Linked DNA regions of Homo sapiens: region 2 is linked to region 1. Evidence: fine-mapped expression QTL. A gene starts in region 1. The other region holds a variant in brackets. All regions are shown on one strand. Distances are from middle to middle. Region 1 holds the start of ZBTB44-DT (ZBTB44 divergent transcript). Region 2 overlaps ADAMTS8 (ADAM metallopeptidase with thrombospondin type 1 motif 8).

Region 1 (5,374 bases):
TGTCGCCAGGCTGGAGTGGCACGATCTCGACTCACTGTAACCTCCACCCCCTGGGTTCAAGTGATTCCCCACCTCAGCCTCCCAAGTAGCTGGGACTACGGGCGCGTGCCACCATTCCCAGCTAACTTTTTTGTATTTTTAGTAGAGATGGGGTTTCACTATGTTGGCCAGGCTGGTCTTGAACTCCTGACCTCGTGATCTGCCTGCCTTGGACTCCCAAAGTGTTGGGATTACAGGCGTGAGCCACCACACCCAGCACAGTTGATTTTCTATATGCTAACAGCCATCAATCTGAAAAAGAAATCAAGAAAACAATCTCATTCACAATAGCTACAAAAAAGCAAAATAAAATACCTAGCAATAAATGTAAGCAAGGAAGTGAAAAATCTCTACCCGGAAAAGTGTACACATTGATGAAAGAAAATGAAGAGAACAAAAAAAAAAAAAAAAAAAAAAGGAAAGATATCTCACGCTCATGAATTGAAAGAATTAATATTGTTAAAATATCCACACTACCCAAAGCCACCTACAGGTACAGTACAATCCCTACCAAAATATCAATGACACTCATCACAGAACTAGAAAAAAAAATCCTAAAATTTGTATGGAACCACAAAAGACCCTGAAAAGCTAGGGCAATTCTGAGCAAAAATAACAAAGCTAGAGGCATTCCTCTACCTGACTTCAAGTTGTACTACAAAGGAAAGCAAATTTTTGTGTCAGTGTAGTAGTTGAGGAGCTGCCACCACAGCCCCTGGAGAAGCACTTAGAAAAGACTTGCCTCATGGTCTTTTATTGACTATCCTGTTAAAGGCACTAGGAGAGGTAGATAGGATTTGACTACTTCATTTCCACCCTGATTCTTGTCCAGTTGCTTACCACCTACATACATTCTCACACATTCCTCACCAGGGCCCCAGCTCATGCCCTTTCCTGAGCCCTGCTCTGTGGCCGCCAGTCCTCTCCCAGGTAAGCATTCCGCCTTCTTTCCCTTCCCCTCTTCAAAACTTAGTGCAAAAGTTTCTGGGCCTAGTTCGCATCTTTCTGATTTTTCTCATCTCTGAAATGGGAATAATAAGAATGATAGTGGGAATAATAATAGAAACCTGTGATAAAACCTGTGAATTACAGTTGCCGTAAGGATTAGATAACATTATACATGCTTGAAAACTTGTTGGAAACTGCGAAGGACTATAAAAACAGAAGTTGTTTTTATTGCCTTTATTCCTAAAGAAGATTGCAAGTGTCAGGGTGTTCAGGTGCTTGGCTGCTTGTCTCTCAGAGTGAATTAATGTGAGATGTTGCCAAGTGTTTCAAAAGGAAAATCCACTCTACTTCAGCGGGACGTCCACCCACCTTGCACAAAACCCTCTGGAAAGAAGTCTTTCGGTTTGCAAACTGGAGGCGTGGGAAAACAGAAAGCGCCCAAGGAGCACCTGCCCGCACCCCGCCCGCCCCCAGGCACCTGGGGCGCTGCCGCCTGCAGTCCCGGGAACCCCTATGACCTCCGGGGGCGGTGTGGAGAGCGCTCGCCCGCCTGGCCAGGGGAAGCCAAGACTTAGGGCCCTAGGAGTTAACTAGGTTGATTGATTTTGCAGTTGACCAAGAACTTCAAAACCCCCCGGGCGGTACCGGTTACTTCGGGGAGGCCCGCACACTTCCTCCGGGAAGGCCAGGAAGTAAGTGATGGTGCAGTAAAAATGACAGATTCACGGTTGTGGAAGAAGTAGGGTATATTTTTGGAGCAGCTCTAGCTGTCCCTGTGTTGGAAGAACGAGAGGGACCTGGGAGTCCGTTTCTCCACTCATCTCAAGAACCGCACGTCCTGCCAGGTCACCGAGGCAAGTGCTAGAACGGAAGAGAGCAAGCACTGCGAGGAGGCCCGAGGAGCCACGCAATCCAGACACCCGCCGCATGTCGCAGTCCGCCCAGGACGGGGGCGCGGGCTCACCTGTCTGCGGGGCGGCCCTTGGCAGGCCTGTTTCCATGGGTGAACAATGGGCACCTTACCAACTAACCTCCCTCGCCGAAGAGGGGCTGAAGTGTTTCTATTTCGACCTCCCTACAAAAACTACCCGAGAAAATAGGAGTTATGTTTTTAGTTCGAAGAAAAAAATAATGCTATAAATGTGACTCCTGCGGAGAAATGCTTCTCAGGTGTGAGAGGGGAACTGGGTAAGAGGACGGCTTAGAGGAAGGACAAATGGGACAGGGCTTATGGGGCATGTGAATGTAAATCGGCACATGTGCGCACATATGCAAAAATACAGTGTCAAGACTCACGGCCTTTCTGGGTCACGCAGGCTCCACCGTCTAAGGAGACGGAGTCACCAACAGTACAAGTCCCGACGGCCAAGAGGGCCCATTTTCTGCGCTTGCGCAATCATCACGTTTCCTTCCCCGCCCCGAGCCCCGCCCCCGAGCGCGCTCCGCCCCGCCCCCTTCTCCTCCCCTTCCCCAGCCAGGCCGCCGGCGCAGAGCATTGTGGGACACAAACAAAGTGCCCCCAAACAGGCTGGAGTGAGCGGAGCGGCAACGGCGGCGGCGCCGGCCGCACGCGCGCGGCGGCGGCTCCCTCCCAACCTCCCCCTCCCCTCCCCTCAGTCCCCTTCCCCTTCCCCACCCCGCCCCGCTGGGAACACGCGAGCCGTCGCCGCGCTCCCCAAACAACCGCCTGCCCTCGGCCAACCGTCCCCAACGGTCGCCAGCGCGCGGCTCCCGGGCCCCCTCGCTCCTCCCCTCTGGCCCCTCCGAGCGCTGGGGGTGCTTCCCTCCCCGCCTCCTCGCACTCCCACTCGCGGGCACGCCGGTGGCTGTGCCGCCATGCCCCACCACAGGCTGCTCACGGGCCTAGGCGCGGCGGCCCGAGATAGGGGCCCCTGAGCCTCCCGGGGGAGGAGAGAGGCAGCGAGCCGCGCTCCGCCCCCTCCCCCCGGGCCGCCGCCGCCGCCGCCTCGCCGCCCCAGCCTGGCGGGAGAAGGAGGAGGAGCAGCAGGCCTCCGGGCCCGGCGCCGCCGCCCGCAGGTAACGGGGAGGGGAGGGCGGGCTCCGGTCGCGCGGGGGACGGCCCCTGCACGCTGCCCGTGGCTGACACCGCGTGGCCCCCACCTGGCGCCGAAGGGAGCGGAGAGCCGGGTCTGTCAGCCTAGTCCGCGCCGGGAGACACCCCACGGGATCCCCTCGGTGGCATTTAATCCTTCTGGGAGGAGACCGGCCTTGGGCCCCGCGGTCCCGGAGCAGTTACCCCGACCTTCCAGGGAGCTGCCCGTCCTTTGCACGCCCATTTGCCCAACACCCTAACCCGGAGCGGCCGGAGTGTTGCCACCTCTCACCTGGTCGAACCCGGGAGGCTCAGACCTGTTTTTTTTCCTCCTTTCCCCTTCTGCTTTTTCTCTGGTACAGAAAGAAAAAGATGGCACTTCTTTAAAAAAATATATATATATATATATACACACACACAAACACACACACACATACACACACACACACACCTCTTTTCCTTTCCTTCCTGAGGATCACTCTGCATCTAGTCGTTTTATTGCTGGCCTAATCAGAAAAAGGGGTTACCTCGAGAAATGACAGGTACGTTAGAACTGATTAAAAGGAAATTGCGTCCATGTGAGTTCTATGAATCCAAGCAGAATTTACAATAAAACCCCGTAATTGTGTGCTTTTTTTTGGAACTTACAAAAATGAAGACAAAAACTTAATTTCTTTTTCAGCGTGTAAGTAGATAATCTCTTGAAGTCAGGAAGAAATTCTCCATAACTTCCACTTATTTTCTTAATGCTTTATTTGGAGATCGGCTGATACCGGAAGCAAGCTGCACGATTTTGATTTCCTTTTCTCTAGGTGTTCAGTTGGAATTCTTGGGTTTAAAAAATACTGTATAAATCTTCATTTCCCCCATTACTTCACTTGGACTGTCAGTGGATTAATAATAATTTTACCTAATGTAGTTTCCCCTTATCATAGAATGTGAATATAATGAACGTAGTCCTTTAGTTTTGTATTTTAGGATTATTAGTAATGTACTGATTAATTATGAAAACCAGATTATTCATTTTGTGCAGTACTGCTTGGCATTTTTGCATTTGTAATTATTTAATTCTCAGAACAACCTAATGATGCAGATATTATTACTTGAATTTTATAGAAGTGACAAACTTAGTGATACGAAGAATTACAACTTGCCTTAGGGCACACAACTAGTAAGATAGTTTAGATTTCAACCCAAATATAATTCCAGTATAGATGTACTTTCGTGTACTTTCTACCGTACTTCTCAATAGAAGTACAATTTTATTAACTTTGTTATGAAAAATTTTAGTCGTATAGAGGTTCGTTCTATACAATTGTGATCGGTTATTCATGCAATGAATAAAAATGCTAATCAATGCAATGAATAACCAACTCAGTGATTAGCATTTTTGCCATATTGTTTCCTGTCTTTCTCTGTATGTGTGTAATTATTTGAAAGTAAGCTGCAAACACTGTAATCCTCAAATATTTCGGCATGTGTTTCCTAAAAATAGGGACATTCTCCTACTAACCCCAGTATCATTATTAATGCCTATCAAAATTAACAACTCCATCTTCAAAATTCCTCAGTTGTTCCAAAGTGTCTTTGAGGGTTCTGCCCCCAGTTGTAGTCAGTCAAGATTCATGCATTGATTGCATTTGGTGATTAAGTCTTTAGTCATTTTGTAAAATGAAGAGTATCCATCCCCTCTTCTTTTTGCAGGGGAAATTAAATAGGATGAATATTCCCTCCCTTCTTTTTTTCTGACACGTAATTGACCAAACCAGTTGTCTTGTAAAATATACCCACATTCTGGATTTGTGCCCTCCTAATGTCATTTCGTTTATTCCTCTTTCTCCCTGAATTTCCTATTAACTGGAAGTTAGGTGTAAAGGAAGGCTTAATTAGCTTAAAGTAAAACTTCCTTTGGCAAGAATATTTAATAGGTGATGCTGTGTACCTCCTGTTGCATAATATAGGAGGCACACAATGTCAGATTCCCACACTATTAATGATGCTAAATGTAACCATTTGATTAAAGTGCTGACTACTGATCTGTTGTAAAGGTGTGGTTTGCCAGTTTGTGATTAATATGTAATCTTGGGGTAAAACTTGGACACTAAGCAAATACCCAGTTTCTGACAATCTTTTGCTTAGTGGTTTTTAGCACCCATGATGACTTTTGCTTAAATCAGTTATTGGAGGTTCTCTGTAAGGAAGAGATTTCCTTCATTAAGTGCAGGTAAACTATTGTTCTTCCCCAAAATGCAAATTAAATGTTAAATTTAATCTCTTTACTTTTCAATATTCATAGTAAAGAGCTGGAGAAATAGCCACCCCCAATGATGTTTT
Region 2 (5,374 bases), 89 kb before region 1:
TCTATGCTGTTCTCAACACCCACATACCTCAACTCCTCAACCACACTTTTGAAATAGAGTTGCCAGATGAAGCAAACACCCTTGAAAATCCCAATGTACAGACATTTCTGTCTGCCTAAACAGCTAATTTATTGAGAACTTTGAGGCAACTTGCTTAATTACTTGCTTTGTTTTTTTCGTGTCTGCCACCTGGGGTGCCCACTTCAGTCTCCAAGGCATCATCGTGACCTGGGCTGGGCAGCCACTGGTCTAAGGGTGTCCTTCTGTTTCTATCACAGTTATGGCTACAATGACATTGTCACCATCCCAGCTGGTGCCACTAATATTGACGTGAAGCAGCGGAGCCACCCGGGTGTGCAGAACGATGGGAACTACCTGGCGCTGAAGACGGCTGATGGGCAGTACCTGCTCAACGGCAACCTGGCCATCTCTGCCATAGAGCAGGACATCTTGGTGAAGGGGACCATCCTGAAGTACAGCGGCTCCATCGCCACCCTGGAGCGCCTGCAGAGCTTCCGGCCCTTGCCAGAGCCTCTGACAGTGCAGCTCCTGACAGTCCCTGGCGAGGTCTTCCCCCCAAAAGTCAAATACACCTTCTTTGTTCCTAATGACGTGGACTTTAGCATGCAGAGCAGCAAAGAGAGAGCAACCACCAACATCATCCAGCCGCTGCTCCACGCACAGTGGGTGCTGGGGGACTGGTCTGAGTGCTCTAGCACCTGCGGGGCCGGCTGGCAGAGGCGAACTGTAGAGTGCAGGGACCCCTCCGGCCAGGCCTCTGCCACCTGCAACAAGGCTCTGAAACCCGAGGATGCCAAGCCCTGCGAAAGCCAGCTGTGCCCCCTGTGATTCAGGGGGGCAGGGGCCAGTCTTGTGCTCCTGGACATGCGGTACTGAGGTGCAGACAAGGGTCTCCACTGTGGTGACTGGGTCCCTTGGCCATATCAAGGCAGCACGGCCCACCCAGGCCTCCCATTGCCGCAACCCCTCCAGTACTGCACAAATTCCTAAGGGGGAAGAGGAGAGGGTATGGGGCGGCAGACCCTATCATCAACTGTCCAGTGGACTGGACCTTGCTCGGGTTCAAGTAGAGGGCATAGGTTAAAAGGTAAAAGTGCACTTATTGACTCAGACAGGACACTCAGCGTCAGTCTGTTTGCAAAGGACTAGCAAACTTAAATGAAAAAAAAAATTCTATCTGGTTTCCCCGATAAATAATCTACCTCACAGGGGAAAAAATTAGTACAAGAGAGGCGTGGGGCAGGGAGTCAATGGTGAATGTCAAAGCAGGCTCCAAAGCTGGACCCCAAGCTGTCTTCAAGAATGACCACGACTGTCTTCAGTGTTAAAATCCATCACCTAAAGGGCCGCAGCGTCGCAGGGTTTGGAGAGCCACATGTTCTCAGGCTGCCACCTGCAGGGGTGGATCCATTTCAAGTATTTATGCAAATGTGTCTCTGAACTAAAGTGTGATCTTATGCCAATGCAGTGGTCTGGTCTGATTCATTGTTTCTTTGGAAAGGGCAGCAACCTAGAACCCAGGGATGGAGGCTGAAACTAGGTCAGCAGCTGGATCCCTGCCTGCTCTGGGTCCTCACAGGCCTGCAGAATCCAGCTCATTCGGGCAACTTTCATTTGCAGGATCTAGACCAGTGGTTCCCAAGGTTTCATTAGGATCACGTAGAGGGCTGTGAAAATGGATTGTGAGGCTGGGCACAGTGGCTCACACCTGTCATTCCAGCACTTTGGGAGGCTGAGGCAGGAGGATTGCCTGAGCCCAGGAGTTCAAGACCAGCCATGACAATATGGCGAGACCCTGTTTCTATAAAAAATTAAAAAACGAAATCAGTCGGTCATGGTGGTACAGGCCTGTAGTCCCAGCTACTCAGGAGGCTGAGGTGGGAGGGTCACTTGAGCCCAGGAGGTTGAGGCTGCAGTGAGCCATTTTCATGCCACTGCACTCCAGCCTGGATGACACAGTGAGACCCTGTCTCAAAAAAAAAAAAAAAGAAAGAAAGAAAGAAAAGAAAACACAGATTGTGGGGCCCCATCCCCAGAGTTTCTGATCTAATGGTTGGGGTGGCCTGAGAATCTGCATTTCTAACAAGTTCCCAGTGACTGACATGGAGGCTGCTGGTTTGGGAGCCACACTGTGAACACCTGTGCTACAGGAAACGTCCAGCTGGGAGATCACAATTGTTATGCGATGCCTTTGGGCTCATCATTCTTGAGAAAGAATATCCCCTTCCTCTCTGTGAGCTACCCCATCATCCTCTTACATGCTGCCTGCCTCCTTTTAGTTTAGCTGGGGGCACCAGATCCTCAGCCCCTACTCCGCTCCATAGCTCCTCATCTCTCCTGTGGCTCAGAGGAACTCTGGCTCAGTCTTCCACCTGGTCTGGTGCAGAGGGAACTTACTTAGTCCCTGATCACAAATGGGTGACAAGAAACAGACATCAAGAAATGACATTCTAGCAAAAGAAGGAAAATACCCAAATGTGCATCTTGGTTTTTTTCACCACCTGTGCCCCCTTTGTCCTCCCATTCAGATATCTGGCACCATGGGCAGAGAGGATGCTGTAGGGGCACTAGGCAAGGCCATGAGATTCCAGCCCCACTGTTCCCCTTAGCTGCTCTCTACACGATGACAGCTGACTCAGAGTTGGTCACTCCTTCTTGTCTGCCTACTCTTTTCAGCGAGTGGGAGGCTGGGCTTACCTAAGCATAAACAGGCACACACACAGGCATGTTGTTGATGACTAGCAAAACCAGATTGTTTCCCTGCTGTGCACCAGTTTTGTGGAGGCTGATGTATGCTTCCGCAACTCTTCATCGCCTTCCATTTCTCGCTCTCCCCCAAATAAGGCCAAGCGTGTCCCCCTTAACGGCCTAAGCCAGGCCAGCTGTGCCATCCCTGCTGCCTGCATCATTACCAGGCACAGCTTTTGCCCTGGAGTTCAGCTGGCAGCAGAGCTGCTGATGTGCAAAGCAGAATGGAATCCAGCTTGGCTCTCCCGGTTGTGTGGGCTCGGCGAGGCTCTCAGAACGCATACTTGTTTGTGTCTGGAAAT[T/A]CAACAGCTGCAGCCCAGGGACTCAGAAACCAGATCTGCAGAGGAAGACCACACCATTATCTGCCCCAGCCAACCACGACCACTCTGTGCACCCAGAGAAGGAGAGAAGACTGTATTTCCTCTGCTGAAAGATTGTGTTTTCCAGCTAGTGCTCCTAATGGAAACTGGTACTCTCTTCTAATGGGAGGCCCTGACTTGGCAGGTAATTTGGTCATTAATCTGAATCCTCCAGGCACCTGCCAGAAATACTTCGAAGGTGGTACAGTAGCATAAAGTTAATTTCCAACCTTTCATTTTTAAGATAAGTGAATCTTTATCTGGGGTTTATCCTCTGCCCTTTATTCCTCTATCACAGATCAGAGGGTTTTGTGAATTTACAAAAGTATGCAATATTACTATTCCCAGTCCACTCTAGCAGACCACCCCTCTCCCAGGAACATATTCCAGGGGTGGTAGGACCCATCTCACTAGATCCGCATCTGTTCTCTGATGACATCCACCTGCTTCTACATCCTTTGTGCTTGAACTTTTTAACCAAGTCACCCTCTTAGTGAGGACTCTTCCTCTTTTCTGGTGTCCAAACATGTCACCCTTCCTGTTTTCCTCTGGAGTGTGCTCCGGAGTTGTTTCAAACCACCCCTCCCTCCCCACACCCCCCAAAAAACAAAACTACAAATGACAAGAACAATTGGAAAGTTCTTAAGGGATACTGGCTTTTGCTTTGTCTTGATATTTTCCACTTGTGGTCCAGGGCAGATAAAGAGGGAGGCCTTGTCAGCCCTGCGCTATGGCGTCTGCAGCGTTGAGCAGCTGCGTGTACTGGGCTTTCCTGCGTGGTGCAGACTACCCTGCCCAGGTGCCCCTGGTCCCAGGAGGGGAGGCTCGTGAACCCCGCAGCAATCTCGACTCCGTGTGCTCTGCCCCAGATCACCAGGTCCCTCCAGGAACCTGCAGCATTTCCTTTGCTGTTTGGGAATTCAAAATGGTTTCTCGAAAAATGTGAACAGGAAGGCAGAATTTATCAAAGAGGACTAGATGTAGCACGACCCTTGGATTCCCAGATTTCTGCTGCCACAGACTCATCACTTCTTTTTGCCCCTATGATGAGTTGAAGCTACATTTCGGAACACATGGCCCCAAAAAACAGGAGACGGGGTGAACATCATGAGGACGGTGATGACGTCTTCTATAAGCCTAGGTTACTGGCCCTGAGACGTGTCCTCTGCCCTCCTCCACTCCCACTCTGCCCTGTGTGATGTGGGAGGGAATTCCTCAGGTGAAGACAGGCTCGTCCCTGCCCAGAATTTCCCATCCGTAGCTGCACCGCGGTTAGACACTCAGCTTCCCCAAGCCCCGCATGTGCACCGTCAGTAAGTACCGGGACAGGAAGCAGAGGAAGGGAAGGATGCAGCCGCATTCAGTCCCAGAGAACAGCAGGCCCGGGTTACTCCTCTTTGGTGGCCGGGGCTGAAGGACAGTCTGTCTTATGGGGAAAACTCTCCTCCCCACGTTTTTCTGGGGGCCTCCGCTGAGCTCGCATTGGGAGAGCTGCATGTGGAATGTGGGAAAGAAGAAGTCACCCATCTAAGCCAGCGTCTTCATTGGCTCAATGTTGGTGATCACTAATGCGACAAATACTGTGGTTGTATTGACCGTACATATGACAACATTCTAAACAACACAGGAGAACACAACGAGCAACAGTAAAAACTGGAGGGTCCCGCGAACGGAGTGGGTGGGCTGTGACTCCCACACTTTCCCTGCCCCTGGCCAGCCCCTCCTAAGCACCTGTGTGCTTTCCAGGTCAACACTGCAGAATGACCTGGCCAGACGTAACCAATAGGTGTGGTCCTAAACAGCTGGTACCACACTTCCCTGGCTCGTTCTTCTTCAGGTGGGGAGTTTTTCTGACCTTCCACTTTGGAAAGAGCAGGACTTGCTTAAAACTGAGTGCCGGCCAGCCCACACCCCCTGAAATAGATCAAGGGACTCATCACAGCCACTGCTCAAGTACTGGGAAGAGACATGACACCAGTGCACAAGTGCATTCTGAACCGTAATGACAAGCAGAGAGCAAGAAAGCCACCTGTCTCTTTAGAACATACTTTCCCTCAGGCCTGGGGCTCAGTAGAAAGAGACAGGAAGGTTCCGGCTGGCCTTCCAGCCCCCAGAGCTGCCCAGCCCAGCCCTGGCAGATGCGAATCGCCCCAGGAAAGGAGAGAGGAAAGAAGCCTTCCCCAGACCTCACCGTTCCTCATTCCAAACATCTTGTAAGTCCCAGGGGCACTGAGAGAGTTTGTCCG

The links.
Region 2: its variant is fine-mapped to the expression of ZBTB44-DT in testis (GTEx, PIP above 0.99).

Annotation. Positions count from the first base shown.
Region 1 is chr11:130,312,025-130,317,398 of GRCh38, reverse strand. It overlaps ZBTB44-DT (ZBTB44 divergent transcript), which reads right to left and starts at 2,406. Exons shown (of 7, transcript NR_148980.1): 1 at 2,284-2,406. ZBTB44 (zinc finger and BTB domain containing 44) reads left to right here and starts at 2,482. Exons shown (of 8, transcript NM_001301098.2): 1 at 2,482-3,024. RefSeq lists silencers at 1,389-1,448, 2,359-3,188 and enhancers at 1,749-1,848, 2,019-2,118, 3,279-3,328.
Region 2 is chr11:130,401,033-130,406,406 of GRCh38, reverse strand. It overlaps ADAMTS8 (ADAM metallopeptidase with thrombospondin type 1 motif 8), which reads left to right. Exons shown (of 9, transcript NM_007037.6): 9 at 279-1,484. The coding sequence ends at 849. ZBTB44-DT (ZBTB44 divergent transcript) reads right to left here. Exons shown (of 7, transcript NR_148980.1): 6 at 5,320-5,374; 7 at 2,750-3,106. Among named protein-coding and RNA genes, the nearest start is that of ADAMTS8, 25 kb to the left of the region's middle. The variant T/A (reference allele first, on the strand shown) is at 3,072.